4 separate regions of the Homo sapiens genome follow, and regions 2, 3 and 4 are each linked to region 1. Evidence: fine-mapped expression QTL. A gene starts in region 1. Each other region holds a variant in brackets. All regions are shown on one strand. Distances are between the middles of the regions.

Region 1 (8,107 bases):
TCTTCTTAAACACCACATCATCAGGGAAGACTTCCAGTGTTTGAGACTAGACTTCCATGGCACCCTGTGCTACCTTTGCTTTTCACCCTTTACTTCTTATGGCACTTATCACAATGAGAATTTACATGATGATTTTGTTTATTGACCCTTATTCCCCTTGGGTGATAAGCTCCTTGAGTCTGGTGACTAGGTACCACTGGTGCTCTGCTGCATCCCAGCATTTAATGAAGTGTCTGCACTTTTCTACTCAGTGTGGCCACAGTCCATAAAGGGATGTCACTGCAGATCTCAGCCCCTATCCTGTTTAAACAAGATCACCAGGCAATTTCTACACACAATCAAGGTTTAGAGGACCTGGTCTAACACATACGAATCATAGTAGTAGTAATAGTTAATAATACTTACTAGGTATTGATAATGCTCCAGGCATTGTTCTAAGCACATGGCCTGTATTAACTCATGTACCTCTCACAGAAACCCTATGGGATAGAGAATCATTTAACAACCCAGTTTTACAGATGATGAAACTAAGGCCCACAGGGATTAAGTAACTTGCTTAAGGTCACACATCTAGCAGTAGCAGTAGCAGATGCATAGAACCAACAGACTGTATGCCTACTGTGTATAAGAGACTAGTTACATTGAGATACAAGGATGTGCAGCACAGAAAGAATCAGATCACAGGGCACCAAGTGAGGGGGAGGAGAGCTGCAGTGAGGAGGAGTCCCTCAAATCTATCTCCCAGTGGAGTGCTGGGCTGGGGTTTTTAAGGAGATCATGGAGGTGAGGGGCTAGATAACTGGGGTTGTCCATTGGTGGGATAAGGGGGATGAAAGTATCAGGATTTGGGAACTGCATTCTTTGGTGAGTCAACTTCTGGTCAGCTACAGTAGGAGACCTGGGGGGGCAGCAGGACAGGGTCATAGTGGGGCCCTCAGACCAGCTGGTGTCAATGGGTCCTTCAGAACAGCTGACATTAGTAATTTCACTGGTATGCAGGACCTGAAAGAATACTCCAAGTGGAAAACACAATGTTTTATGTTCAAGTTGTTAACTATAGAGCAGTTAAGGGGAACTATAATATTGTAACTGGGTCTACGTGATTCTGAGATAACAGACACTAAATAATTATGAAGAAGCAGGCCAGAGAACAAGCTGACCTCATGGTTCATGCTGAATGTGCTGCAAGCTGGGCTTATTTTATTTCTCCCCTTCCCTGCTTCCCTGATTAATTTTATAAAGTTTGTAAGGAAGGTTTCAGTAGTGTTAGTAATAAAAAAGGAGGAATATGATCCCCAGTACATAGCACAATAGAAGGTGCATAGTAGGTGCTTCAAGACATTTTAATGAATGCTAATAGGTGGAGATGTGAGATTTGAACCCAGCAAAATGGCTCCAGAGCCCCAGCTCTTAACCACTTAGCATGTGATGACTATTTGTCAAGTGCACCCCAGGGGCCTTCCGCTGCATCTAGCACACTACAGGCCACTCACACTAGCTGAACAAATGTGTGAGTGAATGGTTAGGTGGTACAGTCAGTTGTGGGCAGATACCTCTGGAACCTAGGAAAGGAGTTTAGTGAAAAGAGTAGTAGGATAGGAAGTAAGTGATTTGGAACTATTGGCCTCAATGTGATAAGAAACACCCTGAGGTTGGGGACCATAGGCATATAGCCTTCATGTATTCAAGGCCTCACAGGCCTAAGAGGAAAATGGGGTGATACTAATGGTGATAACCAAAACATCACTGGTTCTTGTCTCCATCAATTCCCACAGGCTGGAAGGTCACTGTGAAGTACCCTATATCTTTCTGAGGATCCCTATGGTGTGCCTAGCCTGTGCTCATCAACGTCCTTGCTCCTGCCAGGCACCTACACTGTCTGCTACTTCTCCTGAGGCACCTCATTCCCTTGGGACAGCCACTGTGACCATGTCCTGCTGGGATCCCCAGGTCTCCTGCTGCAGTTGATGAGCCAAAAGACTCACTCTGCTGATGCTGTACCCATTCAGCTGCCAAGAGGAGCAGAACATCCGTGGCCCCTTTGTGTTATACTGCATTAGAGGGGTACCCAAGCAGGATGGTATGTGTACCAATGCATCATAGAGACTTCAGCCAAACAGCTCTTCTGTTCTCTACAGGACACAGGCATGCATCCTATGGGGCCTAGGCCACAAGAGAGTCAACAGGCTGTACTTGGAATCAACACTAGAGCTAGCTGGCCATGCCTGGATCCCTCTCCCCTCTGGCGAATTCCATCTCTAGGGGCTCCTTGTTCCCTGCCAAACAGGTTTCCATAAAGCACTCATTTGCCAAGAAGTTCCGGGTGTTTCTGACCGTGAACTTAAGCTCAAGTTTCCCCTAAACCTGCTTTTTTTCCATTGGTAACCCTGCACATAATACTCTGAGATTTTGTTTAGAAAAACAGACTGAAATTTCTTTAGGGCTGTGTGCATGTATTTGGGGCATGAATGAATGTGCCTATTAGCTCATTCTGTTCTAAACCCTATGATTCCCCGGATGTCACGTGCCACCTGTTCCTACTGACTAGGTACCAGGCACTGAAACCACCATTGCAAAATTATAACTGAGATGGTGAAAGGGATCTGACCTAACCGACTCCATCTTGCTTCTCATCTCCAAGCTGTCTTTGTTCATTCCTAGGCATAGGCCAAACTAACTTTGGGGGGAACTTAGTTTATAGTGTAGCTTTGAAACAAAGACAATACCAGCCCTTTCCCAAACAAACCCCCTTCTTGCCCAGGAACTAGACTGCCTTTTCAGGACTAACAAATTAGCCACAAAATTAGAAATTATGGTTTAGGAGTCATGCAGCTAGAGGCTGCAAGATTCTAAACCTCAAATTGCTCCTGGGGATAACATCAACTATTGTAAAACCTAAGATCAGTGCTTAAGATATTTCACAGACACTGCACTCGATGGATCAGCTGGCACCACCCAGATGAATAAACTGGCTCATCTGGTCTTATGACCCCCACCTGGCAACTGACTCAGCACAAGAGGACAGCTTTGACTCCCTGTGAGTTCATCTCCTAGCCTACCAATCAGCACTCCCGACTCACTGACCCCTACCCACCAAATTATCCTTAAAAACTCTGATCCCTGAAAGCTAGGGAGACTGATTTGAGTAATAATAAAACTCCGGTCTCCCTCACAGCCAGCTTTGTGTGAATTACTCTTTCTCTATTGCAATTCCCCTGTCTTGATAAATCGACTCTGTTTAGGCAGTGAGCAAGGTGAACCTATTGGGCGGTTACAGCACTTTAACCATAAACCTTATGAGAAAGTGCCATTTCTCCATTTCACAGGTGAGAAAACTGAGGATTAAAAAGGTTACTCAAATAACTTTCCTAAGGATAAATGTGTGAGTCTTCTAACTCACACATTTATCAATGAACAAAACCGGATTCACAAGTACACTGGAGACTTTACATTTTGGGCAAGGATATTAAGCTAACGGGAGTGAGACAACCCTTCTTCAGTAGAAAAAAGGCGAGCAGCAGGCGCTGCTTTAGTTACCAGCACTTTGCTTCCTCCGTCTCCCCGCGCCAGGCATCGGGCATCCCAACCTCGACTTTGGCCTTCAACTTGGCGCGCTCCGGAGCTAGAGCTCTGCGGTAGCGAATCTGATCGCGTGTCCATGCCCGCCCCCTGTCCCGCCTCCTGGCTTTTGACCCCGTCCTTGGTCCCGCCCCGGGCCCTGGCTCCTGGCCCCGCCCTTGGTCCCGCCCCGGGCCCCTGGCTCCTGGCCCCGCCCCAGCCCAGGCAGGTCACTGCGCCATTTCCTGTCCAAAGCTGGGCGAATCAGGTCGGTGCCGCGGGGTACCCCGGAATCCCCCCTGGGAGCTGGTCCTGCACTGGCCTTCAGAGCCGAGCAGAGGACGCTGCTTTGGGCCCCAGAGCATGGGAAGGTCTTGGCTGCGGTCTGGGACGGCTGCGGTCTGGGACCTGCATGGAGGGCCCGGGACTTGCGGACGCCTGGGAGCGGTTGCTGGGCAACAGTGCGTGCGGCCTGGCCTCTTTGCGCCCGGCGGGCAGCGCGCGTCTGGGGCAGGCTCCGCGCGGGGCTCGGGCACAGGTCCCCGCTGCCGCAGCCCTACCGAGTGAAGCACTGAGCGCGGCGCCGCTTCGCCATCACCTGGCTCTGGCCCTCTCACCCTAGCGTAGGGGGGCACTGGCCAGGCAGTGAGGACCCTGAGATCCATGCCCTGGGAGACAGAGGTTGTCTCCTGTCCATGCACCCGCGCGCCTGCCTTCTAACCTTCATACCGTTGGGCAGATTAATTCACTGGACTAGGCCTCTGTTCCGTGGGAGTTGAAAAGATTTGACCTGGAAGAAACCCTAGCGATTATTCAGTTAAGCCGCAACCCCACCCCCTGTTTTATATAGGTAAGGGTGCTTCACGGTGAGGACTCGTCGCGTGCCTGGTGCTTTACATCAGTCCCCAGAATAGTCCTCGTAGTTTCTCTCTTACTGTTCCCATAGTATGGGTGAGGACTCTGAGGCTCGGAGAGGTTGTGAATTTAGCCAGAATCACACAGCTTGTAACTGGTGGAGATGAGGACACTGAGACTCGATTAAATCACTCGTAGTTTGTTCGTGGCAGATTACGTGTTAGAAGCGTGTTACACTACTATGAAACCTGGCCATAAATGAGAATCACCTGGAAAGTGTTTAAAATCTATATTCGTGTCTGGGCAATGTCCCGGGTTTACTGACTTGAAATCTCGGGCTACGGCTGAGGAAGCTGTATATTTAACAATCTTCCCGATGATTTTTATGATCTGTGGATGAACCACTGAGTACTGCTGGGTACACCACGGGGCCTTCTCGCACAAAAACAACTGTAAAATAATATCTGAGGTACCTAGAGCAGAAGAGACGCTGGTGAGCATGGTAACATTATGTTCTAATCCCTTCAGTCAATTTGTACCCTTTCTTCACTCTTCAGAAACAAGCCAAAGGCAGATTTTAAACAAGTATGGACATTTAGATGCAAATTGCCCCAAGTTTGTTACCTGTCACACATCCACATTTAAGCTTCTGACTAGACCAGCCTGTCATGATCAAAGTCAGGTGTTAGTGTATTTCTCTATCCTTGGCAACCTGTCATCTGCTCTCTTCTCATCTCCATGCCAGGTCCCTAAATCGCCGGGGTTGATGTTGGCTTTGGAAGAACTATTTGCAGAGCGTTTTCTGCACTGGAAGGAGGGCTGGAAGCTTTCTGGAAGCATTGCCGCACGTAAATGAGTGCCTCTTGGCCTAAAACAGCAGTTGGAATGAAAGGGATCACCCTGCTGTTATTCATTGACATAAACAAAACTGTCATAAAAATAATCACTTGGCTCTTAGTTTTAGAAGGCTAATAAGCCTGACCGTTCTGTTTAGTGCTTTATTATTATTAATTTCACCATTATGCTGCATCCCTTAGGGATTCCGGTTCACAATGGATGCTGATAAAGAGAAAGATTTGCAGAAATTTCTTAAAAATGTGGATGAAATCTGTAAGTACTAGTAAATCATAAATTAATTTCTGCTTTAGAGAAGTGGAGTAGATAAATGATTGCTCTAAGTTCCTGGGTGGCTTGACAGGTTTATAACTCTTAGGAAAAAAATGTAATTGAAATTAAAGAGAAGGGTATTGAGAAACAAGTTATAGCCTCAGGGCTGTATTTTCTGGCTGTTAATTGGTATCAGAGAAACTGTTAACATTCTGATAGGAATTCAGGCTGACGGTTTTCTTCCATATTTTGTATCCTTCTATGTGGAATCCAGTCAAAACCAGCTGCTGTTTCCCCATTGACAATGAACCCAGCTGTTCCCTTCAAGGGTCAAGAACCTCATTGATCAGTGTGAGATTCCTCCCGTTTTAGAGTAGAGCCATTTCTGTTTTAGAGCTGCAGAGGCAAAATCAAATGGCTTTCCTTTAGGATCCATCAAATTACATGGATGGTTTATGATCATCATTCCCTTCTCTCTCTCTAGACAAGAAAGTCCTTTCCCAAGTTCAGGCAGGTTGGATCTCAAAGAAATGTACTCTGATCCCACAGATCACATTCAGGAATTTCCAAACCTGTCAGTCCCTGTTCAGGGAGCTTGCTTGAGTATAGAAACAAACAAACCAACAAGCAAACAGACCTTACATAGTAAATACAGGCAATATGCTGAAATTGCTGCTTGTAGCAGATTGTATGGGTTCAAGGAATAAAGTGGTTTTAAAGCTAGCTTGGGTGACATCGTAAATGATACATGAATAATGCTTATCCCTGAATGCTGTTCCATGGAGCTCTGGCCTTGGCCCACTGCCACCTTTCTCTTCAGCTGGTCTAAACATGTAGCTTTACCTGCCACCTGTTTGTTCATGACCCCCACATCTACATGGACACTTAGCCTTCTTTTCTGAGCCTCTGCCTCTATGGTACTGTCATACCTACTGTATCCCACAAATAAACTTAAATGTGTCCAAAATTGAGGCATCATCTCTTTCCCTCCCCTTTGCCCTCCCCCTCCCAAATAAAACCTGCTTCTCCTACCCTCACCTTCATCCTGGTCTCAGTTGGTGACACCACCATCCAGAAATTTACAGGTCATCTGGGACTCCTCCCAACTCATAACCCTGCATCCAATTAGCCATCTAGTTTGGTTGGAGAGCCATCCTCTCCAGCCCTCCCTTTGTTCTGGTTCTTCTCACCCAGACTATGTCAACAACCCCCTGATTGTTTTTCCTGTCTCCAGGCTTATACTTCCCACAGAGTAATGTATCTAAAATGCAAATCTGACCCAGACACTTCTCTGCTTGGATTCCTTTTGCAGTCATAATAAATCCCAAGCTCTCATCAGGACTTAAGTCCTCCCATGACCTTGTCCTTACCTCTCTCATATCTCCCTACCTCACGCTTGAGCAGCAATAAACTGCTGATACTTCGCCACACATACTCTGTGTTTCACACTCTGCACTGGATCTTTGCCATTCCCACTGCCTCTTCATCTTTTTTTTTAACCTGGCTAACTTATGCATACTCAAAGTTCATTCAGGTATCATGTATACCAGTGCTGTCCAATAGAGCTTTCTGTGATGATGAAAATGTTCCATAATCCTCACTGTCCACTATGGTAGCAACTAGCCACATGATTATTGAGCATTTGAAATATGGCTTATAACTCCACCCTGTGGTCTAGTGCTTAGGGTTCTGTGTGTTTGTGGCTGCAGCCCAGGTTTGAAATGCGGCTTGTTTCAATTAATTTAAATTTATGTAGCCACATGTGTATAGATTCTGTACATTTACTTCTTGGGCTCTTGCTATGTGTTGAGTGTTGGTAAGGCCTAGAGAATACAGTCAAAGAATTATTCTTTTCATGGTATTAATAGTCCAGTGGAGAAAACAGATATTAAACAGTAATTTCAAGTATGCAATATGAGACACAGAGAATTACAAAGTGTAGGGATCTAACCCAGCTTTGGGAGGTTGTATTAGTCGGCTAGGGCTGCTGTAACAAAATAGACTGGCTGGCTTAAATGACAAAACTTTATTTTCTTAGAGTTCTGGAGTTTAGAAATCTAAGACCAGGGTGTGAGCAGGTTTGGTTTCTTCTGAGGCCTCTCTCCTTGGCTTGCAGATGGGCACCTTCCCGCTGTGCCCTCACATGGTCATCTCTCTGTACGTGCATATATTTGGTGTTTCTCTTCTTACAAGGACACTAGTCATATTGGATTAGGGCAATGATTAGTTACTTCTTTAAAGGCCCTATCTACAAATACAGTCATACCAGGAGTTATAGCTTCAACATGTGAATTTTTGGGGGGGATGCAATTTAGTCCATAACAGAAATTAAATAAAGTTTTCCAGAAGAAGTGAGATTTAGGCAAAATGTGAAGAGTGAGTCGGAGTTGGTCACTGGGAAAATGACAGGGGAGTGTCCTGGGTGGGAAGTAAGGAGGTAGGAAAGCTAAGAGTGAAGAAAGAGTGTGGTGCTTTTGAGGAACTAAAAGAATAAAAAGCCCCAAATGTCTGGAAAGAAGAGATCAAGGAGAGAAGAGTCCCATCTGAATATGGAGGGGCCAGATTAGGAAAGACCTTGGAAACCATG
Region 2 (8,107 bases), 65 kb after region 1:
CACATATTTCTAGGACCAGGTTTATCACTAGACATTCTTTAGGACTACAGCAATTCAGAAAAGATACTCTCAAAAGACTACTTGCCTAGTAACAGCATCTCCACCAATGAACTGACGCCAATTCTGGCTTTGAGTCTCCAGAGCCAATGAACTCTGTTTCTAAGCAGCTTATGTGAACTTCTCCTTTTGCCAATAAAAGCTTCCCCTCACCCTCCCCTCTTCGGGTGCATCTGTTGCTTGCTATAGCTGTGCATCCTAGATTATAATCCTTTTGCTTACTCACAAATAAGATCATTAAATTAGGAGATATATTTCTCTGATGTCTTTTTTTTTTTTAGGCTGACACCTTAAGGTATCAGTTAAAATGTTAAGTGCTCCTGCCCTATTTCCCCCATCTCCTTTCTTTCCCCAACATAATACCTTAATAGATACATATTATTCTGACATACTGTTTAACTTGCTTCTCATGATATATGATTTATTGTTTGCATTCTGCTCCCTTTTCCCACTAGAATGTGAACTTCGTAATTTTTGTTGGTTCTGATCCCTGATGTGTCCAAATACCTAGAAAAGTGCTGATACATAATAGGTGCTCAATAAATATTTGTTGCCTGAATGATGAAATTTAGCAGGAGAAGGCATTAGGGGACTTTCACTAGGGCCAGCCTGGGGTGAAGCCTGGTTACTCTAACTTTAGACTCTCCACAGCTCCCCAGCCCCTACTGGTGATAATGGTTTAAGCTAAAATACTACAGTAAACACTAGCTTCTGTTTACTAGTTTCCACTATGTACCAGGCATTGGGATAAGTGCTGGGCACACACAGAGGGATAGGACCTTCTCTTCTCTCGAGGAACTCCCAGTCAAAAGGGAGCCAAAGGACAACACACTAGAGGGTCACATACCCTTGGGCTTAGTGAATGTTTGTGATACAAAGCTAGGACATCTGGCCCAGCATGAGGCACTGGGGTAGAAATCTTCCTGGAAGAGGTGATGTCTGAGCTGTCCCTTTCCTACATTGGAAGAAAGACATGGCAAATACGAGTGTGGGTTGTGGGTAGGGAGAGAGGATGAGGAGAAATGAATGAAACTGAGACTATATCAAAGGCTGGGGCAGGAAAATTTGCTGTGATTCTCACCCTCACTTTCCTTATCTGAGCTGACCGAAGACATCCCCACAAATTCCTTTATCCACTCTCTGCCACCAAAACACACTCTCATTCACCTACCCAAGTAGATAAGGTCCTCTGCTCCTTTGAATTTCAAGGCAAAAAGACTCTTAGCAGGCCTTCTTTGGTTATCTGTTCTCACATCACTTGATGCCATCATCTGGAAATACCTGTAGGCTTGTGTCTAGACCAGTCTTTGTTTCTATGAAAAGCCAGCCCTTGCACCTGTGGCTAGCACCAGGTGCCTGCCACCACTGTATACCTGGAAAGGGGCATTGCTTCAGCTCTCATCTTCAGTCACTTGCCTTCTCCACTCCCAATTGCTCCTGATTCGTGCTCCCGGGGCCAACTATCGGTTCCTTTCTCTTCTAGATCATCCTGAGTAATTCCCCCAGGAGAGAGAGGATAGCTCAGAGCTGGATGGAATCTGAAAGGCATTCTTTTCCCAGTCTGAAACTCCATCTGCTTGACACTCTATGTGCCAAGTTTCCATATTCAATGCAAATTTACCAGCACATACATAGTTTTCCTGTTACTGGTTAAAAAGCGTTTTGACAGTCCCAGGGACACATTGCTTTCTTTCCAACCAAAACTGTAGAGACAAAGACACATTTCCACTGCAACTAAGTAATCCCGAAGTTTCTCCATAAGCCAAATTTGATTGAGCTAATACTGACCTTTCCACAGGCACAGCTTCCAAAGATATCTTTTTGCTGCAGGCAAAGTCCTGATGAGCATATTAGTCAAAGCTCCACCTCTTCAGTACCAGCACACCCACCCTCTCTTTTCTCTTCCTTTCAGGTTGAAGGAGAACAGGGAGTGTCTCTAAATTTCCACAGCTGATTTTTCTCCCCCCAGGAGGTCCTATTGTTCAGGCCTGGCCTGGGGAGCACGTGACACCCCACCCCACCGCCAGCAATGGATAAGCCTCAGGCTCAGAGTCCTGTATTTGATTTGATCAAGGCTATTCTGGCCATATGTTAAGAGCAATGTACCTTGGCAGGAAGCAAGCCAGGTTTAAGTCCTGGGCCACTGAATTGCCAACTGCGTGACCCAAGGCTCCTCTAAACCTGCAAAAATGGAAATAATAATAGTACCAAACTCAGAGGGTTGTCAAGAAAATTAAATGAGATAATGCAAGTTGAGCACTTGGGATGGAGTGTCTGGTTTGAAGCAAAGGCTGGCTAAATGACCATCTGATTATTGCTTTGGCCCCTGAAGCCTCGCCATCAATTTGTTCTCTCATTCATCAGAACAGCCCTTTGCTTGGAAAACCATACTTATAAAAATATGAAGCATCGTAAATGATCATAAGGAAACCGACCGGGGGAAGGTAGCAATGATGGGAATCTCTAAGGATCTCTCCCAGGAGAATCTGCCTAGGGGTTTTAGTGGCCTGACCCTGGGGAGGCAGGTTGGAGAAAACTGTAAAGGAAAAGCCTGGTCTGCTACAAAATGACTCAGAACCTACTCAGACTAGAGAAGTCTCTGAAAAAAGGCTAGAAATCAACCTTCACCCCGGGAGATTCACCTTCCTGTTCATTCATCCATTCATTCATTCATTCATTCATTCATTCATTCATTCATTCATTCATCAAATGTTAAATGAGCTCCCTCCTACATGGCCAAGTACTGAGGATAGAGCAGAGAACAAGATTCCTGTCCAGGAGCCCATATTCTATTGGTCTATTTAAGTTTCTTTGACTTTTAAGAATTGTATTCTTCACAACCACCTATACCACATAGTGAAACAAACAAACAAAATATTTTCTTCTTTTTCAACTTGTATTTTAGATTCAGTGGGTGCATGTGCAGGTTTGTTGCATGGGTATATTGTGTGATGCTGAGGTTTGGGGTATGAATGATCCTATCACCCAGGGAGCAAGCAAACAAGCATAGCACCCGACAGGTAGTTTTTCAACCCTTGCCCCCTCCCTTCTCCACCCCCAGTAGTTCCCAGTGTCTGTTATTCCCATCTTTCTGTCTATGTATACCTAAGGTTTGGCTTCCACTTACAAGTGAGAACATGTGGTATTTGGTTTTCTGTTTCTGTGTTAATTCACCACTTAGGATAATGGCCTCCAGCTGCATCTGTGTTGTTGCAAAGGACATGATTTCATTCTTTTTTATGGCTGCATAGTAGTCCATGGTGTATATGTACCACATTTTCTTTATCCAATCCACCATTGATGGGCTCCTAGGTTGATTCCATGTCTTTGCCATTGTGAACAGTGCTGTGATGAACATATGAATGCACATGTCTTTTTGGTAGCAAGATTTATTTTATGCCTAGTAATAGGATTGCTGGGTTGAATGTTAATTCTAAGTTTTTTGGGAAATATTCAGCTTGCTTTCACAGTGACTGAACTAATTTGCACTACCACAAACAGTGTATAAGTGTTCCCTTTTCTCCACAGCCTCACCAGCATTTGTTATTTTTTGTTTTTTTTTTAAATAATAGCCATTATTAAAATGGTTGCTGCAAAACAGTAACTCATTGTGATTTTGATTTGCATTTCTCTAATGATTACTGATGTTGAGCACTTTTTCATATATGTGTTGGCCGCAGGTATGTCCTCTTTTGAGATGTTCTGTTCATGTCCTTTGCCCACTTTTTATTTTTTATTTTATGTTTCCATAGGTTATTGGGGTACAGGTAGCATTTGGTTACATAAGTAAGTTCTTTGGTAGTGATTTGTGAGATTTTGGTGCACCCATCACCTGAGCAGTATATACTGCCCCCTATTTGTAATCTCTTATCCCTTGTCCTCCTCCCACCCTTCCCCCCAAGTCCCCAAAGTCCATGGTATGGTTCTTATGCCTTTGTGTCCTCATAGCTTAGCTCCCACATATCAGTGATAACAAACAACATTTAGTTTTCCATTACTGAGATACTTCACTTAGAATAGTAGTCTCCAATCTCATCCAGGTCCATGAAAATGCTGTTAATTCATTCCTTTTTATGGCTGAGTAGTATTCCATCATATATATGTATATCTCACAGTTTCCTTTTCCACTAGTTGATTGATAGGCATTTTGGTTGGTTCCACAATTTTGCAATTGAGAATTGTACTGCTGTAAATGTGTGTGCAAGTATCTTTTTCATATAATGACTTCTTTTCCTCTGGGTAGATACCTAGTAGTGGGATTGCTTGATCAAATGGTAGTTCTACTTTTAGTTCTTTAAGGAATCTCCACACTGTTTTCCATAGTGGCCATATAGTTTACATTCCCACCAGCAGTGTAGAAGTGTTCCTGCATCCACACCTGATCACTGCATCCACACCAACATCTACTGTTTTTTGGTTTTTGATTATGGCCATTCTTGCAGGAGTAAGGTGGTATGGGTTTGATTTGCATTTCCCTGAGTGATGTTGAGCATTTTTTCATATGTTTGTTGACCTTTGCCCACTTTTTTTTTTTTTTTTTTGAGACGAACTCTCGCTCTGTTGCCCAAGCTGGAGTGCAGTGGTACAATCTCGGCTCACTGCAACCTCCATCTGCCAGGTTCAAGCAATTCTCCTGCCTCAGCCTCCCAAGTAGCTGGGACTACAGGTGCGCACCACTATGCACAGCTAATTTTTGTATTTTTAGGAGAGACAGGGTTTCATTATGTTGGCCAGGCTGGTCTTGAACTCCTGACCTCATGATCCA[C/T]CCGCCTTAGCCTCCCAAAGTACTGGAATTACAGGCGTGAGCCACCATGCCGGCCTCCTTTGCCCACTTTTTAATGGAGTTATTTGAAGGCATCGTACTACCTGACTTCCGACTATACTACAAGCCTGCAGTAACCAAAACAGCATGGTACTAGCACAAAAACAGTCACATAGACCAATGGAAAAGGATAGCAAACCCAAAATAAAGCTGCACACCTAACAACCATCTGATCTTTGACAGTCAACAATCACAAGCAATGGGGAAAGGACTCCCTATTCAATAAATGGGATAACTAGCTATCCATATGTAGGAGAATGAAACTGGACCCCTACCTATCTCAATATATAAAAATTAACTTAAAATGGATTAAAGATTTAAATGTAAGACCTAAAACTATAAATATCATAGAAAACCTAGGAAAATACCATTCTGGACATTGGCCTTGGCAGAGACTTTATGACTAAGTCCCCCAACAAAACAAAAACAATTGCAAAAAAAACCAAAAGTTGACAAGTGGGACCCAATCAAACTGAAGTGCTTTTGCATAGCAAAAGAAACTATCAACAGAGTAAACAGACAACCTTGGAATAAGAGAAAATATTTGCAAACTAGGCATCCAGCAAAAGTCTAATATCCAGAATCCACAAGGCACTTAAATAATTCCCATGCAAAATCTTTTCTTGGTTTCTTTTAGTGTACCCAAAGTGGTCTGGCTAACTCTTCATCCCTAAAAGAGAAAAGGAGGAAGGAAGGGAGGGAGGGAAGGAGGGAGGGAGGAAGGAAAGGAAGGAAAGAAGGAAGGAAGGAAGGAAGGAAGGAAGGAAGGAAGGAAGGAAACTTACTCTACATGAATAGTAAGGAAAATAGAAAAAAAAAAAAGAAGTTATAAGAAGCATGACACTAGTCACATTTTAGAAGTCCCTTTCTTTACCTGCAGAGCCAGCAAGCTTTCAGAGTTCCCAAGAAAACCACCTTTTAGTGTTTAAGTCCTTCCCTAGTCCTAGCTTTCCTTCACTCCCCCCTATCCAGGAAGGGCCCAGAGGAGAGCAGAAGGATAGATTTATGGCCAGATCACCAAGGTTGACATAAGGAGGGCATTTTCCCTTTAGAGTCCTGGTAATAGGGACTCAATCTCCCTGGACTGACTCTTTGTTAAATTAAAAAGGGTTAAGTTTAGCATTCCTAGTCTCTTGGACACTGCCAGAGAAGGTATTGACCATGACATCTTGGGCATGCTCTGAGGCTGTTAAGGCCCCATGTTGGAATGATGTTTCTCTGAAGCCCTGGCCACAGCCAAGCATTTCTTCTAAACTGCTTGAGATGGCAGGATGCTTGAGACATCTGTTTGTTATTTTTATATGGACCCAGCCCAGAATCACAATCACCCAAGACCATAAAGAACCTGTGGCCATGATTTTGACAATGAGAACCATGGTTCATGAAACTCAGGGCTTCCATTTTTGGCTTCTTGACACTCAAGGTAGTTTTTCATCAAAAAGCCCTTCAAAAGAGAGACTGGTTTCCTTATTAGGAAGGAAAATCTATACTCTGCCAACTCCAGAAATTGAGTCTTAGAAGGAACTAGTTCGCTCCCTCTCTCCATCGTCTCCAGCCTCAGACATTTAACACAGTGGCCTTTCTCTTTCTCCTTGGGGTTTCTACGTGTCCACAGGGGGCCAGCTGTGTTCCTTAAGGCATTCTGTGGTAAATGTTAGATTACTGCCTTTCTCCTATTATGGGAATATTTTCCTTCCAAGAATATAACATTACCTAGTAATAAGGACAAGAACGAGAAATAGAAGGGGGAAGGAGAAGTAGGAGGAGGAAAAGGAGGAGGAGGAAAAGGAGGAGGAGGAAGAAGAGAAGAAGGGGGCTTTATTTGTATTTTTTAAATGTTCTGCTTGGAGATAATTACAGATAAGCACACAATTTTAAGAACTTATGCAGAGATACCCTCACCCAGTTTCCCCCAAAGGTAACATCTTATGTCACTATAGCACAACATTACAACCAGGAAATCAGTGATACAATCCATAGTCCTTACACAGGTGCCGTCAGTTTTACATGCACTCATTTGTGTGTGTGTGTGCATCTGTGTGTGCATTTAATTTGATGGAATTTTGTCACATGCATTGATTCATGTGGCCACCACCACAGTTAAGATACAGAATAGTTTCATCACAAGGTTCCTTTGCACTAACCTTTTACAGCTACACCCACCTGCCTCTCCCCCAATCTCACCTCTGACAACCACTAATCTGTTCTCCATCTCTATAATTTTGTCATTTTAAGAATGCAATATAAATGGAGTCATACAGTATGTAACCTTTTATGATTGGCTTTGTTCACTCAATAGAATTCTCTGGGGCCTCATCCAAGTGGCTGTGTATATCAGTAGTTGCTGAGTCCTATTCCATAATACAGCACTATGGTGTGTTTAGCCATTCATTGGTTGAAGGACATCTGAGCGGTTTCCAGATTTTAGCTATTGCAAATAAAGCTGCAATGAGCATTCATATACAGATTTTTGTGTGAACACTGTTTTCATTTCTCTGGGATAGATTCCCAAGAGTGCAATTGCTGGGTTGTATGGTAATCATATGTTTAGTCTTATAAGAAATGGCCAAATTCTTTTCTAGAATTGCCATACCATTTTACATTTCCACCAGCGTATGAGTGATCCCATTACTCTACATCCTCATCAGCATTTGGCGTTGCCACTATCTTTTCAGTTTTATTTTTAGCCATTCTGATAGGTAGTTAGTGATATCTTACTTGCATTGCTTAGTGGCTCATGATATTAAACATTTTTTCAAGAACTTATTTGTCATCTGTATATTCTCTTCAGAGAAATGTATTTTCCCATTTTCTAATTTGATGCTTTTTTAGCATTGAGTTTGAAGACCTCCTTATATACTCTATGAACCAGCACTTTGTCAAATATGTGCTTTACAAACATTTTCTCCCCATCTGCACTCTTCTCTTCACCTTCACCAGGTCTTTCACTGAGTGAGAGTTTTTCATTTTGATGAGGTTCAGTTTATCAATTTTCCCTTTTATGGATTGTGCCTGTGGGATTCGGCCTAAGAACTTTTCATCTAATCCTAGGTCCAGAATATTTTCTCCTTTTTTTTTCCTAAAATTTTTATAAGTTTACATTTAATATTTAAGTCCATGATTCATTTTGAGTTAATTTTTCAGGTGTGAAGTATCAGCTGGTTCATATTTTTTGCCTAGGAGTATTCCTAGTATATACCTAAGGAATGTAACCTTTAAAAATATACC
Region 3 (8,087 bases), 53 kb after region 1:
GACTGCATCACGTTATGCTATAAAGATACTAGCTATCTGCACGAATAGTTATCATGAAGCTCGGGAAGAAGTAATAAGACTGGATAAAAGTAAGTGATGATTTCCTTAAGGGAGCCCTTGTCCCAGAGGTTCATCCACCCTTGAAGCTGCAAAGGGAACTGTGGTCGAGGAGGAACTTAGCAGCAATGCTGTTAACCTCTCCCAGACTTCAGCAATGTTTACAGAAGATGTTTCACATCCAGATCTGAAAGCATTTAATTAACCTTTTGGATGCACACAGGTAGAATGCCCAGGCTGGAGACCCAGCTGACAGATGGCTCAAAGATAACAGGGTCAAAGCTAGGAAACTCCCTCCTCTCACCAAGTTCAGTTCTCTGCCTTCACAGAAGGAGAGGGGGAAACACCGTCAACGTTTAGTGAACAAGGGAAATATCAGAGTCTGAGCCTAGGTTTAGTCCAGTAACTTAAACCGGCTGTAGTTATTCACAGCAGGCTTCCCAGGAGAGGCAGCCTGCTAATGTTCTTCTTACCAACTCCCTGGAATGCACAGAAGGTGAACTGAAGGAGGCTCCACCATGGAAGCGGCAAGCCTTTCTCCTGGATCCTGTTGCATACCCTGCAGGTGTAGGTTGCTGGCACATTGCCTCCACCTGGGGGCTGTCAGATAAGACCTCTCACCCTGGCGCAGTGAGAGGTTAAGAATAGGCTTTCAAGAAGACAGACCTGTCTGACACACAGCATTCATTCATCTAACAACTGTGTTGTGCTGGGCACTGTTCTAGGAAGCGGAGATACTTCAGAGGTTCAGCAAGGAGTTGAGGAGGTTCATATGCATTCAGTGAATGTTTGCTGATGAGTAAGTGAACAAGTTCTGCTGCAGAGTTACTGGGGAAGCTCGGTGTCCGCTGACATCTCCCTGCACCCCTCATGTCCTGTTGCCAGCCTCCTATTTTGGGATTAAAAGGAGCTGTTGCTTGTTCTCTTCTTTCCCTGCAGAGTTGAGCGTTATGATGAAGCTGCTCAGCTCGGAGGATGAGGTTCTGGTGGGCAACGCTGCCCTCTGCCTTGGTAACTGCATGGAGGTGCCCAACGTTGCGTCTTCCCTGCTAAAGACGGACCTTTTGCAGGTCTTGTTAAAGCTTGCAGGCAGTGACACACAGAAGACGGCCGTGCAGGTGAACGCAGGCATTGCTCTGGGGAAGCTGTGCACAGCTGAGCCCAGGTATGCTGTGGACACGGAGCCAGGCTGACCTATTGCAGAAAGAGCAGCTGAGCTGAGGTGCTGAGTTTTGGCTGGGACTGCATGCCACACAGAACAGTGTGGGAAGCCCTCATGCTTTCTGTGCAGACCTAGGTTAAGCCCAGTAGCTGCTTCTCTGAAGAAAGCCTTTCTAGAGGAAACTGGGGAGCTCTCGGTCTCCAACCAGAGAGGGAATCGGCTTGTCTGACAGGGACGTGCTGCTCCCACTTGCTGCCGTTGCCTTCTCTCCATTCCATTCTCCACTGTTTTGCATCCCTCTCCCTGTCTCTTTATCCTCCTTCTTCCCCTCCCTCCCACTCCACCTCCCCTTCTCTTCCCTCTTTTCTCTCTTCTCCACTTTTCCAGAAACAGACCCCCCACTTCATGTTCTTTGCCTCAGCCTAAACAAATGGAGGAACGGCCAGCAAGGGTCACATGTTCATGCAGGAGAAAACAGTGGAGAAGGAGAGACGCAGAACAGCATGCCGAGGTCCCCAGTGAGCGAGGGCAAGAGATGTGGGCTGTAACTGTGCCCATGGCTTCTCTGTTAGCTCAGACCTCCACTCTGCTCTGCTCCTCTTCTGATGTGCAGACGCATCTCATTGCACGTGCTTTTGGGAGGTGTCCACCTGTGGCTGAGCAAAGGAGCCCTGGCATAGAGCAAGGGTAACCCCGGGAGCTGAGTGAGAGAGGCTCCTTCCCTTACATCCACATGCCTTTAATTCCTCCTCTGTAGATTGAGGGGGTTGGCCTTGATAATATCTAAGGTCCTTTCAAGTTCTGTCTGGTTGTTCAAATGGAAGGAATAGTTAAAATCTTTCTTCTATAGAAAGAAAGCACATTAGCTAGGATGACTTCAAAGTGGCAACCTATGGGGGAGTTCTCGAGAGCAAGGTCCTGTCTGATCAGCCTGACACACCTGCCACCTGCAGCGAGTGTTTTCAGTGCTTTGTGGGCCTCCCTGAGGGTCTTACTTACCCCTGTGATCTTTAGGGTACCCCAATGCCACAGCCACTTCCTGTTTCCACCCAGAGTGATAGGACTGACGTTCTCAGCCAGCTTCCATCTGAGAGGGTGTTGGCTCTGGGCTCCAGAAGCCTGAACCGTGGCACTTATGCCCTGGGTTGTTTGTTTTGATTGTGACAGATTTGCTGCTCAACTGAGAAAGCTTCATGGCCTAGAAATTCTCAACTCTACGATGAAATACATCAGTGATTCTTGAGAGAGACAGGGTTTGTGTGCATTTGGGGAACACACAGATGCACACCGTGTGTTGTTCCTATGCTAATAAAGACCTTTGATGTATCCACTTCAGAATCAAGTACTCATTTTTAGAGTGTTTGCATTTCAGGTTTTCACGGGTAACAAGAGAGTGGGCATTAGGCTGGCTGCTGTGGTGGGCTCTGTGCACTGGCTTACTCGACTTCCATTGTACCCTCCTTTGAATGTTCTTTCCTGTTCTGTAGAAGCTAGAAACCATCTCACAAAAAGCCACATTGCCCAGACTCCCTTGTAGCAACGATTCTAGATGGGAACTAGTGGCCAATCTAATGCCACTTCCTACCCCTTTTGCTATTTTCTGCTGGCAATATGCTAGAAACATCAGATTTGTTGGTAGCAGCATTTCAGCTCCGTTTTTCCAGCTGTGGAGTGCTGAGAGAGAGTTGCATTGGCATCATTGGTGGCCTGCAGCTGACTCCTGGCCTGCAGCCACTGCATGTGCCGTTAAATTCAGTGGGGTGAGTGGTAGGTGGTGTCTCCCCTGTTAGGAGAACTCTGCGTGAATCATTCTGGGAATCATTCCTGGGGGTCCCTCTGGCACCCTCCTCCAGCCCATCTGGTGGTGCTATAGGCACCCTGTTCCATGGGTTAGATTGTTCTCTGCTAAAGGTGCCAAAGCACAGGCTTCTCTTTCTACAGTGAACCCTGACTGATGCAAATGTGTTGATTTCCCTAACCCACCTTGTACTCTCACCCCATCCCCAGAGGCAACGCTCCCTTCCAGTTGCCCCAGGGTCACTCTAAACCAGGGTCACCTGTGGACTGCAAGTCCCTAAGTGAGAAGTCCAATAAGTGGCATTATCTCTGGCTCCTTACAATCACAGAATCATTTTAGAGTAGGAGGCAGGGTCTTCATGGTACAGTGAATGTCAGGAGTCCCAGACCAAAGTTCCAAAGACTTTTGGTCGTACCCTGCTACCTGCCCTGCCAGCCATGTGACTTTGGGCAAGTTGCTTAACCTCTCTGAGCTTTGGCTACTGCTTCTGGAAACACTAATACCTGCCCAACCTACCTCCTCCATTGTTGTAAAGGTTAAATGAAGTTTTGGAGGTGAAGGCACTTTGGGAATTATAAAGTACTACGCAAATATAAGAGATTACCAGACTCTATCTTGAGATTGAGGGTGTCAACTATGACGTCATTTGGGTTAAGTTTGAAGGGTCTGGGAAAGGATGAAGCTCATGTCCTTTAAGGAATCAAGCTGGCCATTCTCTGAAGCATGTAGGAAAGGAAATCCTCCTCCTCCAGGGAGATGTTATTCAACACACCCAAAGAAAGTGTTCTTCACAGGTAAGGCAGCTGTTGGCTTAAATTAAGAACTTCGTTTCTGAAACGGAGATAAATAATTGGCATTTGGTGACGGGGGTGGGCGGTGGAAGAAAATCAATGGCCTGAGCCCCTCATTCAGATTGATGTACTGCGCATGGCTGGAGGGAGCTCACTGGGGCACTCTGTGGTGGCGCCCTGGGTGGCAAGCAAGTGACAGGCCACTAGCCAGGACCTGCCCATCAGTCCTATCATGCAAACAAACACCCTTCAAGAGGCTACTGAATTGCAAAGGGAGAACGGCTCGATGCTAATCAGAGCACAAAGAAGAAAATTAGAGGGTGCAAAAGTTGCTGTTTTCACAGAATTCCGTGGAGCTTTGAAAACGGAAAGGCTGTTTGTGTTCATAACCACCAGCCCTGTCTCCTTTGAAGTTCAGGCCCCGCCTTCCCCTGCTATGGCTGCCCTCCTTCTTGGCTCTTGAAAATGGCTATGATAGGTGTATTCTCTTCCCCAAAGAGTGGGGAATGTCAAATTACGTTATTATGTTTATTGTTCCAGAGTGCCTGCCGAGAGCAGTCATCTCCAATTTGGAAGAGAGTCTGCTGCACCTGAAGCTCTGTCTCCTCGCAGGTGGGAAGAGATGTTTCACATGCTAGTATTCTCCCTCTCCAGTGTGGATCCACCCCCGCCACCGCCCCAAACTTGTTACCCCTAACACATGCTACCATGCAGACCTTCCAGGCAGCATGGAAAATACCAGCGCCATCTTTCAGAAGGCCTCATCTCCACTTGCCAGGAGCCCCGACACCACCCTTGGAGACACGGCTTGTTCCAGGTAATCAGAGTCTTCTGGTTCAACAAGCAGAGGAGCTGGGATTTTCCATCCTAAAGAGGATGTGGCCGGGATGGAACTCCATCACCATCCTGAAGCCACAGCAGAGGTGGCAGGTAACAGACAGTCCAGAGCTGCTCACTGTCTTCATACATGAC[G/A]TGAGGACGGTGGTTCCAGTGCGCCGCAAGGTGGGACTGAGGTTCAGAGTTGAGAGGAAACAATAGGAAGGGGCTGAGATGCTGCAACAGGTCACGGGCTGCTATTGTAAACACTTTTTTAAGGATAGGTTCAAATAAGAGCTTCTTGGCTTGGAGAACTGAGGGGAAGTATGACTAAGAAGTATTAGGTTGGTGCAAAACTAATTGCAGTTTTTGCCATTAAAAGTAATGACAAAAACTGCAATTTCTTTTGCACTAACCTAATATTCTGAGGACAAGAAGACATTTAATACCACATGACTTTTTTTAAGTAAGAGGTCTCATTTTCTAAATAACTTGAAAATAGAGGCTCTCCAAGGGTTCCGTTACAGGAGAGAATAATCAGAGGTGAAGAAAACCCATTTAGAGCTGACTCCCTTTCCCAGGGAATGAGCTTTTGGTCCTCATAGACTGGCATCCTGCAGACACGCAGAGAGAAAGAATAAAGCCTGCCTGTGCATTGTTTGTTTGTTTGTTTGTTTGTTTTGAAACAGAGCCTCACTTTATCGGCCAGGCTGGAGTGCAGTGGTGTGATCTCAGCTCACTGCAACCTCTGCCTCCCAGGTTCAAGTGATTCTCATGTCTCAGCTTCCCATAGCTGGGATTACAGGCATGCGTCCGTATCCCAAATTTTCATATTTTTATGAAATATGGTGTTTCACCATGTTGACCAGGCTGGTCTCGAACTCCTGACCTCAAGTGATCCACCTGCCTCAGCCTCCCAAAGTGCTGGGATTACAGATGCGAGCCACCATGCCCGCCCCCCCACCCCCCGTGCATTGTGCCTTTGCTCTGCACTAGGCACCCTATCAAAACTTGAAGATCCTGCCCTAACATAAGCCTCATAACGACTGTGAGGTGGGTATTATCTCCACTTTACAGGTAAATAAGATAAAAACAGAATAGTACTTTCCCACCCAGGATCACATAGCCAGGAAGCAGGGGAGTCAGAATTTGACCCCAAGCTGTGTTCTTAACTCTTCCTGCATGTAAAACATTCCTCTCCTTACTAAGTGTGACCTGCAGAAAAGTCACCACATTTCTCAGAGCCCCAGTTTCCTCTCTATAAAATGGGAGCATCAACACCTACCTCTCCTTCTGTGGTTTGGATATAATATACATGAAGTACCTAGCATAGGTGACTGACAGATAGAAAGTATTTACTTAATGGCGACTCTTTTTGAGAACAGAAATGACCATGAGCCCATTATCTGCCCCCTCCCACCCTCACGGATCTGCTTATCTTCCTTGGTCCTCCGTCTCACTGAAGGCAAGCATGTATTTGGCTCTGTTTACCTTTCCCTCTCTCCTGTGACTGGTGGCAAACATGAAGATCCCCCAAGAGCCAGCTGCCAGCCAGAAGCCTGCCTTCTTACATGACCCCATGGCAGCAGGGCCTGAGAGCACTGGTCTTGGGTGGGATGGGGTTCAGAGCAACTCAGGGCTCAGGGATAGGGTAGCAGCGCTCCTTGTCAGGGCCTGGGGCCAGGGGTGCATGGGCATCAACAGGACCCAGTGTGAAGTGGAAGGTGCTAGGATCAATGCTCTAAAATCCTCTTTGCAAACAGATACTCCTCTGTTACTTGCAGTTTGTCCTCAGTTTATAATCAGGAAAACCTGTTGATTGCAATGACTGTAGCTCCAATCATATATTCATCAGGATGTCATTAGTTCTTTTCTCCTAAAGCCCCAGAGCTGCATCCCCCTACCCTCCCTGATGCCCTAGAAAGAGGAGTGCTAGCCCAGCGGGACATCCAGTTGCCCACCACCTCCTCCAGCAGCTCCCGGCCCTGTGGGTGGCCACATGCCAGCCAAGCACTGGGCTTCTGTGACCTGAAGCTGCTGGATGACTTATTTCCTTTTAATAAGACTCCTAATTTGATCTCAATTTCAAAAAGGCAAAATGATGAAGGAGTTCTCCCTGGAGACATTCTGCCCTGTGGTCTGATTTTGCCCTGGGGCTGGATCAGGCTTTCTTGGCTGCTCTGAGGCTCAGCCCTGGCTTAGGTAGGAGGGAGCCTTAGGGTGCTGGCAAAGCAGGGAACAGTGGGCTGCCGATTACCTCTGCCAGCCACCCCAGCCTCAGATCTCCCCAGTTCTGGAGCAGGGCTCCTGTCACCAGCGGGTTGGAAGGAACTGCTTTAAATGAGGGTGGCTGCCTGCCAGATGTGCTGATTCAGCTCAGCCTGAGCATCACTCCATTGTCACATCTGTCCCCAACTTTATGTTTGGGCTTCTTATCTTCAGCAGCTCTGGATGCTCATTTAGATCCCTCAACTCCCCTCGGGCAACAAGCACACACATACACACACCCCCACACACACGGAATTCATCTCGCTGCTGCTGGGAGATGAATTTGCACATTAAAATAGGTGAGTTAACGTGCAAGGTGATTTACACTAGATCAAAGGCACAGCAAGATAGTGAGAATTATTGGAACAAGAGGCTGAAGAAAAGGCTCCTAGAATGTCCAAGCTGAAAAGTATTCAGGGATCATCTAATCCTCTACAGTCATCCCTTTGTATCCACCAGGGATTGATACCACAGATACCAAAGCCCTGGGATGCTCAGGTCCCCTATATGAAATGCATCATATTTGCATATAACCTACATACATTCTCATATACTTTAAATCATCTCTAGATTGCTTATAATACCTAACACAATGTAAATTCTATGTAAATAGTGGATATACTGTATTTCTTAAAATTTGTATTATTTTTTATTGTTGGAGTGTTATTTTTATTGTTTTTTCCCCAAATATTTTTGATCTGCAGTTGGTTGAATCTGCAAATTTGGAACCCGAGGGTACAGAGGGCTGACTGTATCTGCTTTGTTGGAGTCCATCTGATTCATTGTCTAAATACAATTAATTGCTCCAAAATGGCTAGTCCATGCCCCCTTATTTTATAAATAAGGAATCTGAGACTCAGAAAGGCCAAGTGAAGTATCTTCAATGTTCTTACCTTTGTTCAAGAACCCTCTGAACTAATGGTCCAGAGTGGGGTAGGGACTCCAACAAGACCCGGAGAGGCAGGAAGCTCAGTGGTGGGAGTGCAGGCTCAAAGTCCTCCTCCACCTTGCTTTAAATTTCATAACCTCGCTTTAAGTTTTAAGTTTCATAACCTTAGTGAGTGGCTTAGCCCCTCGATTGCCTTGTCTGTAAAAGGCAATAGGGGAGATATGATACCCACTTCTTAGGTTTGTTGTGGGGATTAAATGAGATGATTTCTATAAAGCTCTCATCACCGTACTTGGCACATGGAAG
Region 4 (8,107 bases), 73 kb before region 1:
TTCGAGAGGAGCCACTCTGGGCATGAGGGAACCTTCCTTCTGGATCTTCCCCTGATCTTTAACTTGTGGTTCAACTGAGTCTCCAGGTTTCCTCTGGTCTGGATTTGATCAGTAAATGAATGCTGGCTTAGTTACATTAAAGAGAGGAAGGCTGGGATGAGGCCCCCCTCTGAGTTTCTAACCAGTAACTGGAGTTTGAGTACTGAATCAGAGTAACTGGGTCTTGGACTTCAAAGGCCGCAGTGGTTTTCATTCATTGCCAGCTCAGTTCTTGCAAAGGTGAGACCATATATATAGATATATAGATATATATAGATATATAGATATAGATATATAGATATATATAGATATATAGATATAGATATATAGATATATATATAGATATATAGATAGATAGATAGATATAGATATATATCTCAGAAGCTATATTTTTAAAGTCAATGTTAAAAATGAAATTTTTAATGAAATTTTAATTTTAAATTAAAATTTAGATTTTTAACTACAAAAAAGAGGTCTCCAGACCTTGTTGTTTATTGTCTGATAGTATCAAAATGGATAAGTAACCACGACTCCAAGAAGCCCTTTGGAAAAGGATGGTGTCATCTCTGCATTCCAAGTAGGTCATGAATGGTACAACAACAGGCATTGTTAGTGGTACAGAAAGTCAGTTTTTCTCAATCATTTAATAAAGTTAAGGTCTGAAGAATCAAAAGGCAAACTTCTTTTAGATAAGTAGAACCATGGCATATTCTTAGAGTTGAGCACGCCTTTTGCAAGAATTTTAGCAGGATGAGGCGGTGAACATATGGGAACATCATATTATCACCAAAGATAACTTATTATGGTCTTTCTTTGTGCCCTGATAACCTTCCCAGAGTTGCTGAAGTGAGGACTTAGCCCACGGAGTATCCTGCTGCCCCTAGACCCATCCTGAAAACAGATATCATTGGGAGGATGCTGCCAGCAGTTACAACTGCTATGACAAACCCACCCTTTTGCTGCTAGGAACTGAGGACGAGCCTTAGGAAGGACCTTCTCTGAATTCTTACTCTCATTTCTTGGAAGACACAAAGATTGTCTGAACTTAGGTAGACAGAACCAACCACCAGTTTAGCTGTGTGCTTGCACTGAGCCCAAGAACCAGTGGCATTGGTTTCTGATGCCAGCTTACGGCACCACTGACACTGCACCCCTGTCCTGTAATACTGTTGGGATGCAGATGCACAGCAGGATCTCCTACCACTGGAGTTGTGCTCTGGTTATACCCCAAGCCCCAAGGAAGAGAAGGCACAGAGTCAGCAGAGGCCAGTGTGCTGCACAGGCAGGTGTTGCTGCCGGACTCCTGGGCTGCCAGGTGTCAGGTGAGACCAGCGCATTTGGCACTGACTCATCGCTTGAAGTTCGTTGAGATGTCTCAATAATGGGGTTGCTTTCTTGGTTCTTTAATAGACCTTTCCATGTTTAGGGACATGGATATATCAGAGCAGGGATGAGCAGGGGGAGCTAGTAAAAGCCACAAACACTTAATGGACTCTTGTTTTCAAGCTGCCAGTTAGTAAGCATGGCTTACCTGTTTGGAGGTTCCTTTGTGTGTAGTTCATGAATGTGCATGAAGGTAATGAGGAAGCTGTGACCCCAGACCAACAAATAAAACTCTAACCTGTGAGAATGTGCCTATTTCATGTATTTTTTAAGCCAAATGTCTGCATGCCATCAAGACACTCAGGAGGAAAGCTCAAAACCTCTGTTTGCCTTGAGACGGGCTGCTTGTGTCAGACTCCTTACAACTAGCTAGGAATCTTCCCCTCCATGACTGAGCTACCCACCTTCATAATTTCATTGCCCAAACATTACCTCTTAATTTGCTTCTGTACCATGAAGCAAAATAGATTATTTCTTTTTGAATATAGAGATTATGAATGAGTCTCTACTTTTTTTTTTTTTTTTTTTTTTTTGAGACGGAGTCTCGCTCTGTCGCCCAGGCTGGAGTGCAGTGGCGGGATCTCGGCTCACTGCAAGCTCCGCCTCCCGGGTTCACGCCATACTCCTGAGTCTCTACTTTTTAAAAGAGGCATCTTGAGATTTTTGTTTTCATATGTTGTCCCCCAGGTGGCACATTGCAAGTATAACTATGCAAACAATTCAAGCTAAACAAAGAAAAGAGAGGGAAGGAGACCTGAATTAACCAGACCATCCAATAATGATGAGTTATGATTCTTTGTTGCTTTGATTCCAGTGACACTGTACTCATGGTTTAATGAGATGCCCTCATGTGGAAGGTAAAGGAAGACAAAACCATGAGTATTAGATATTAAGGCAGTGGCGGAGATACACTGAGGTTTTTCCAAATTTTCATCTAGCTCTCGAAGGAGACTTTGTTTTGTGACTGCTGATGGGACTACTTCCAAATATTTGCCAATGAAAAACCAAAGATCCATTCAGTGTCCCAGTATCTCAGATGCACAACTAACCATCCTCTACACAGAAGAATGGCTAGAATTTCAGTCCCAGTCTCTTCATCATTTCTATTCCCTGGAGGAGTGAGAATAATCCTGAACATTATTTGCATGGCTCTTACGTAGCAGCCTCCAAATAACCACATTCTGTAGGGGAGTTTTGGAAGGCAGCAGTGGTTGCAGCATCATCTGTATGATACAGGATCATGAACTTCATACACTAGTACACATTAGGTAGGAGAGCCATTTCTGTCTCATTCATTCAGATGTTGAAATGAGTGAGGCATATAGGTTTTGCTATAAATAAAGTCATATGTGGAAATATATACCTATATAGAAACACATATATAGATGTGTAACATGAAAAGCCAATGTCTATTTTCTCCTTCACTGGTTCACCTTAAACTGAGGTCCAGATTCCTTTTCCTCCTATACCTCTCGTCCTATGGAGACAGCTGGTCCTGCTGAACTGGATATTTGTTTTCAGTCAAGGTTTGAGGCTTGTGCAGCTGTTCCTGGCCCAGACTTTACCTGAACTGCAGGGTTTGGCAGGTGCACAGTCTCAAGGTTTGACGTTAGAGAGAGCCCTGCTCCTCGCTAGTGCCCTGGCCAGCTGTTCACACACGGTGTTGTTCTTCCCACTTTAACTCACTTCAGCTCCTCATACTGATGCCCCAGGGTTGTTGCTTCCATTTTTTTTTCATTCAGTATCTGTGTGCCTCAATGATCTTTTTTCCCCACCTTCATTTTTCTTTCTTCAGCGGCATCTGCTAGCTCGTCTACCCCTGTTCCATTGTCTCCACCAGATAGTGAGTATCATTTTCTTCATCCATCTCTCTGCAGGTCACTTTCCACCAGCCACAGTTTGTTTTGCCTAATGTTATCTCCTTCACCAGGTGATAATTCAACTCAGTTGGTGGAAAGCAGCGTCGGGTTTTAGAGGAGCAGTTGAGAAGAGAAACAGGCATAGGGCTTCTCAGATCCATGAGGGGCAGCCTTCCCTGAAGGAGAGGCGAGGGAAAAGCATTGTTCTGGATAGAAAACCCTGCAGGCAGGATCCCCAAGGCTGCCGCCCTGGGGCCAGCCCTGTCCTCAGGATTCTGAGTGGGCTGGATCAAAGCTCGTATTTGGAGAAGCCAAAGGAATTGACCAAGAAAAATGTCTCCTCTGCAGGGTCATAGAAAATGTGTTGGAGTGTTTTGTTTTTACCCTTCATTTTAATTGGCACAGTTGGATACAGACATTGAAATTAGATAGGGAGGCCTGTAGCTTTCGCTTTATCCATAAATGCATACTTTTCTTGTAAATATTTGTGGGAAAATAAACAGTGTCTGGCAGTGTCTGGCAGATGTGCCTGGCAGTAGGCGCTTAGGCAAATCGTTTAACCCTTCACAAGTGAGCCTTGTTTATCTCCTCTGTAAAATAGGATGAGTAGTCACCCACGTCCCGCCACCCTAAAGAAAATCACAAACATTTTCATGTTTATCATGCTCTGCTTTACCCACATGGGATCATTACCACCAAGCCAGCAGTAATGTCAGCTGGTCGCTCTCAGATTTCATCATCCTGGCTAAGCCTTGCTCATTTCTGATCTAATTAATGTTGCTATCCTGTCCTTTTGTGTGCCTGAATGTGCAGGAGTAGAAGGGGCTCCAGGCCTGCCACTGTTTGGAGTTTTGAACCTAGCTTTCCAGGGAGGAATAGCAAAGTAAGACCACAGCTCAGTAAGACACAGGATGTAATGCCAGCATCTGCCCAGAGTGGCAGACAGCAGCAAATGGGCAGGCAGGGTGGTGCCGCCTGGCTGGCTTTATTCTCCTTGATATATCAGAAGCCCCTGTGGTTTGGACTCAGACTCAGGAGGTGACTCAAGCCTCAAGCTCAGAAGCCCTCTGTCACCATCTGTTGACTCAGAAGCATGCCCACCATCCCATGCAGTGCTTTTCCAGGCACTGTCCTGTAGCAGACGGAGTTCAGGCTT[T/C]GGAAGTAGACAGACCTGGGTTCAAATCACAGCTCCGCTTCTTCCGCCTGAAGCTCCATAACCTAGGATAAGTCGCTAAGCCTCCCCAAGTCTCAGATTTCTTACCTCTAAGGTGAAGGATGGATTCCACTTACCTTTTCAGTGTTTGTGAAAATTAAAGATTAAATGTGAAGAACACAAAACATACTGCTCAGCATTTAGCAGCTGGAATTAATAGTAAGAATAAATGAGAGTTATGTTATCTCTTGCTGCATGAAAGTCATTTGTCAGCAAAATCTCTGATCATCTCTTTTAAATATGTATATTAAGAGTCTTTTAAATATGTATATTAAGGCCCAGCATGGTGGCTCAGGCCTGTAATCCCAGCACTTTGAGAGGGCCAGGCGGGTGGATTGCTTGAGGCCAGGAGTTCAAGACCGGTCTGGGCAACCTTGTCTCTACTAAAAATACAAAAATTAGCCAGGCGTGGTGGCATGTGCCTGTAATCCCAGTTACTTGGGAGGCTGAGGCAGGAGAATTGTTTGAACCCAGGAGATGGAGGTTGTAATGAGACAAGATCGCACCATTGCACTCTAGCCTGAGTGACAGAGCAAGACTCCATCTCAAAATAATAAATAATATGTATATTAATATTGATAGAGAAGAGAGAGAATACCTCCTTCACCATCTTTATAATGATGCCTACATATGTATAATATATACTCACCCATGTATGTATACATATATAGCTATGAGTTTAATTTATCTCCATTCTCTCCTTCACCTTTCTTTGCCTTTTCTGTCTGTCGTGTTTCCATAGCAACTTGGCCTCTTCCTGCCCTTGCAACCACAGAACCAGCTAGTGAGTACAGGGCTGAGTTGCTCTCGGCCAGACCTCTGATCGCTTGTTGTAGAGCCGACTTCTAGATTACAGCGCTGCCTGTTGTTTTCCCTTTTATTAAAAGCAACAGTTGTGAATGCATGAAGGCTCCTAGCCTGGTGTGGTTTCCTAAGCATGCCGTCTGCTTGGCCAAGAGAGCAAACCAAGCATCAGCAAAAGAACGGGGTTGATTATTGGAAGAATACTCCGTGCATGAGGAGGCTTTTCCAAATCGACTCTCTAGTTAAAAATAGCCAAGGATTAGGCAAACCCTGAGGACACAAAAGAACAGCATCTCCTTCCCGGCTTTCGCTTTGCTGTCCCTCCTTCTGAAATACACACGCTCATGCGCGTGTTAATTTAGCAGTAGCAAAAAGACTGAGAGCGAGGGAAGGAATAGGAGAAAATGGCTGCTTGAGGAAAGGGAGAGGGTGATGCCGAGAAGGAAGGAGCCGCTGCTTCCTGACAGCATGCCCGGCTTTGTCTCCGCGTACGCAGAGCACAGGGGAAGGAGAGAGCTCCTTCCTGCTGTCTCCTTTCAGGCTCCCGCCTCAGTGCTAGAAAAATGATGGGCAGAAAAAGCCTAATCCAGGCTCCCCTTGGGTTGAGAGTCCAGATGAAAGTGCTGGAATTTATCTCTTGACAATAGAGTCAAGAGCCAGATTGTATCCTCTTTTTTCATCGTAGAAAACATTGCACAGAATCACTGCTGTAACATGTTCCAAGCTGGTCTTCATAATGCTCTAATGAAGTAAGATGTGTGTGGAGGACCTGAATCTCCTGAAGAATCCATATGAGTATGCGTGCATGTTCATAGTGTTCAAGCATCAAAGCTGTGTGGGAGTTTTAGATTTTATAATATTTCTGCTTGCACAGAAAAAAAATGGCATACATCCCATCAAGCAGAACAAGAAGGCAGAAAGCAGGTATGCAAAGTATAACTCCAGCTCCCCGGGCCAAGCTTTCCAATACATAATTGAACAGAGAAGAAAAGAGTTTCCTGGTTCTGTGTGTTGCATGAAATGGTTCTTTTTTTTCTACTGCAGAACACAGCTAAGGGTCTGCTTTCTTGGTGTTCCCTCCGTGTGTGTGCTGCGATGAATTTTAATTCCTGATGCTTTTGAGGTTTCATTTTGTCAGCAGAGCAGAGCCGGTGACAACAGGCTGTGCTCGCATGGGTTTAATTCAGATTATGAGGGGTTTTTTTTTACATTTGGAAAAGGAATGCAGCTGACAGCCCCTTTTCTTATTCTACAGTGTCACTCCTGTCCTTTTTCAACCTGGTGCAATGTGTGTCCAGGCACAGTAGGAGAAAGCTACATAATGTATTTGTACAACTGTGTCATATTTCAGGTGGCTCACTGTAGGTTGGTCTTCTCTGTTAGTGAAACACAATCTTGGTTCCAGATTTTGCCTGAAGAAGGAATTAGGTGTCTCTCCCCTGACATGTCTTTAATTTTTAAACATCAGACATTTCTGCCCACAGACAAAATGCTTAGTTGTGACATCCAAAGGGAAGAAAGTTTGAGTCATTTTATTTTGAACCACTTGACTACTGACCCAAATTGTAGGTCCCAGTGGATACTGAGATAAAGGAAAGATGCTCACAATTGGGCAGCAGCCTGAGTTTAGCATGAACATATTTCTCACTAGTAAGATGAAATGTGGCACATGTGAATTGCAGTGGAACTAATAGCAGAGTAGCTATCAGCATGTGAATATCCATCGATCATCAATCCATCAGTGGGGTTGAAAATACATATCTCCCAGTTTTGCTTCTGTGTGTGTGCGTGTGTGTGTGTGTGTGTGTGTGTGTGTGTGTGGACCCATTTATAATTATGAGGGAATAAAGGTATTCTAAATAAAACCAAAGGAGCAATTGCTTAGTTGTATATAATCCCTGCAAGGCCCCTTTGGTAGGAAGGTGCCTGAATCTGTGTAATGCCAGACAATAAGAAAGAAGCACACATTCTGTCAGCTCACGGTGGCAAGGGAAGAGGTAGCCTGGTTAAAGCATTTCTCTCAGGTTATTTTTAACCAGCGGTGTTCTTTACACAGAAAGGTGTCTTCATCTCCCTTCTTTGCCCTTCTCCCTCAGCCTCAATTGGCAATGGCCAAAACTTTCCCTGGCCTCTTAAATTTAAGGTCAGAAACCCAAAATACCTTTTAACAAGTCGAGATCACTCAGTCACAACATAGGACCAAAAGGAATGCTTAAGAAAAGTGTTTTTTTTTTTTCATTGTAAATCTCAAATTTATGACTTATCAGTGCAACCACGATTCTAAAGATATAACTTTAACCACAACAGGTTGGGTGCCGTGGCTCAAGCCTATAATCCCAGCACTTTGGGAGGCTGAGGTGGAAGGATCACTTGAGCCCAGCGGGGCCAACAGGGCGAAACCCCCATCTCTACAAAAAATAGAAAAATTAGCTGGGTATAGTAGCAGACGCCTGCAGTCCCAGCCATTCAGGAGGCTGAGGCAGAAAGATTGCTTGAGCCCGGGAGGTCAAGGCTGGAGTGAGCTATCTTCATGCCACTGCACTGCAGCCTGGGTGATGAAACGAGACCGTTTCAAAACAAAAAACTTTAACCACAAATGGCCCAAACATTTGCTTAATGTCAAACTCTCAGCACGTTGGGCCAAAGGTACAGTTTCTGCTGTTTAGTGTCAACACAGCCATTGTCTCAACCATCAGAAGGAAACCCATTCCCTAGTCTGCACTGGCCTCTTCCTTTATATGGGTCTTGACTTCAGGGAGGCTCACCGAGGTCTCAGGAATAACATGGGTTTGTGGAGAAAGAAGTGAGA

Evidence for each region.
Region 2: its variant is fine-mapped to the expression of TTC12 in whole blood (TOPMed, PIP 0.97).
Region 3: its variant is fine-mapped to the expression of TTC12 in whole blood (TOPMed, PIP above 0.99).
Region 4: its variant is fine-mapped to the expression of TTC12 in tibial artery (GTEx, PIP above 0.99).

What each region holds. Positions count from the first base shown.
Region 1 is chr11:113,310,793-113,318,899 of GRCh38, forward strand. It overlaps TTC12 (tetratricopeptide repeat domain 12), which reads left to right and starts at 3,791. Exons shown (of 22, transcript NM_017868.4): 1 at 3,791-3,826; 2 at 5,451-5,523. The coding sequence starts at 5,466. It overlaps TTC12-DT (TTC12 divergent transcript), which reads right to left and starts at 3,664. Exons shown (of 5, transcript NR_199709.1): 1 at 3,538-3,664. RefSeq lists silencers at 3,602-3,851, 3,875-4,169, 4,062-4,161.
Region 2 is chr11:113,376,199-113,384,305 of GRCh38, forward strand. No RefSeq gene overlaps it. Among named protein-coding and RNA genes, the nearest start is that of ANKK1, 7.5 kb to the right of the region's middle. The variant C/T (reference allele first, on the strand shown) is at 4,823.
Region 3 is chr11:113,363,839-113,371,925 of GRCh38, forward strand. TTC12 (tetratricopeptide repeat domain 12) reads left to right here. Exons shown (of 22, transcript NM_017868.4): 20 at 1-89; 21 at 997-1,222; 22 at 2,387-2,549. The coding sequence ends at 2,462. Among named protein-coding and RNA genes, the nearest start is that of ANKK1, 20 kb to the right of the region's middle. The variant G/A (reference allele first, on the strand shown) is at 4,781.
Region 4 is chr11:113,237,569-113,245,675 of GRCh38, forward strand. All of the region lies in intron 14 of NCAM1 (neural cell adhesion molecule 1), which reads left to right. Among named protein-coding and RNA genes, the nearest start is that of NCAM1-AS1, 32 kb to the right of the region's middle. The variant T/C (reference allele first, on the strand shown) is at 4,438.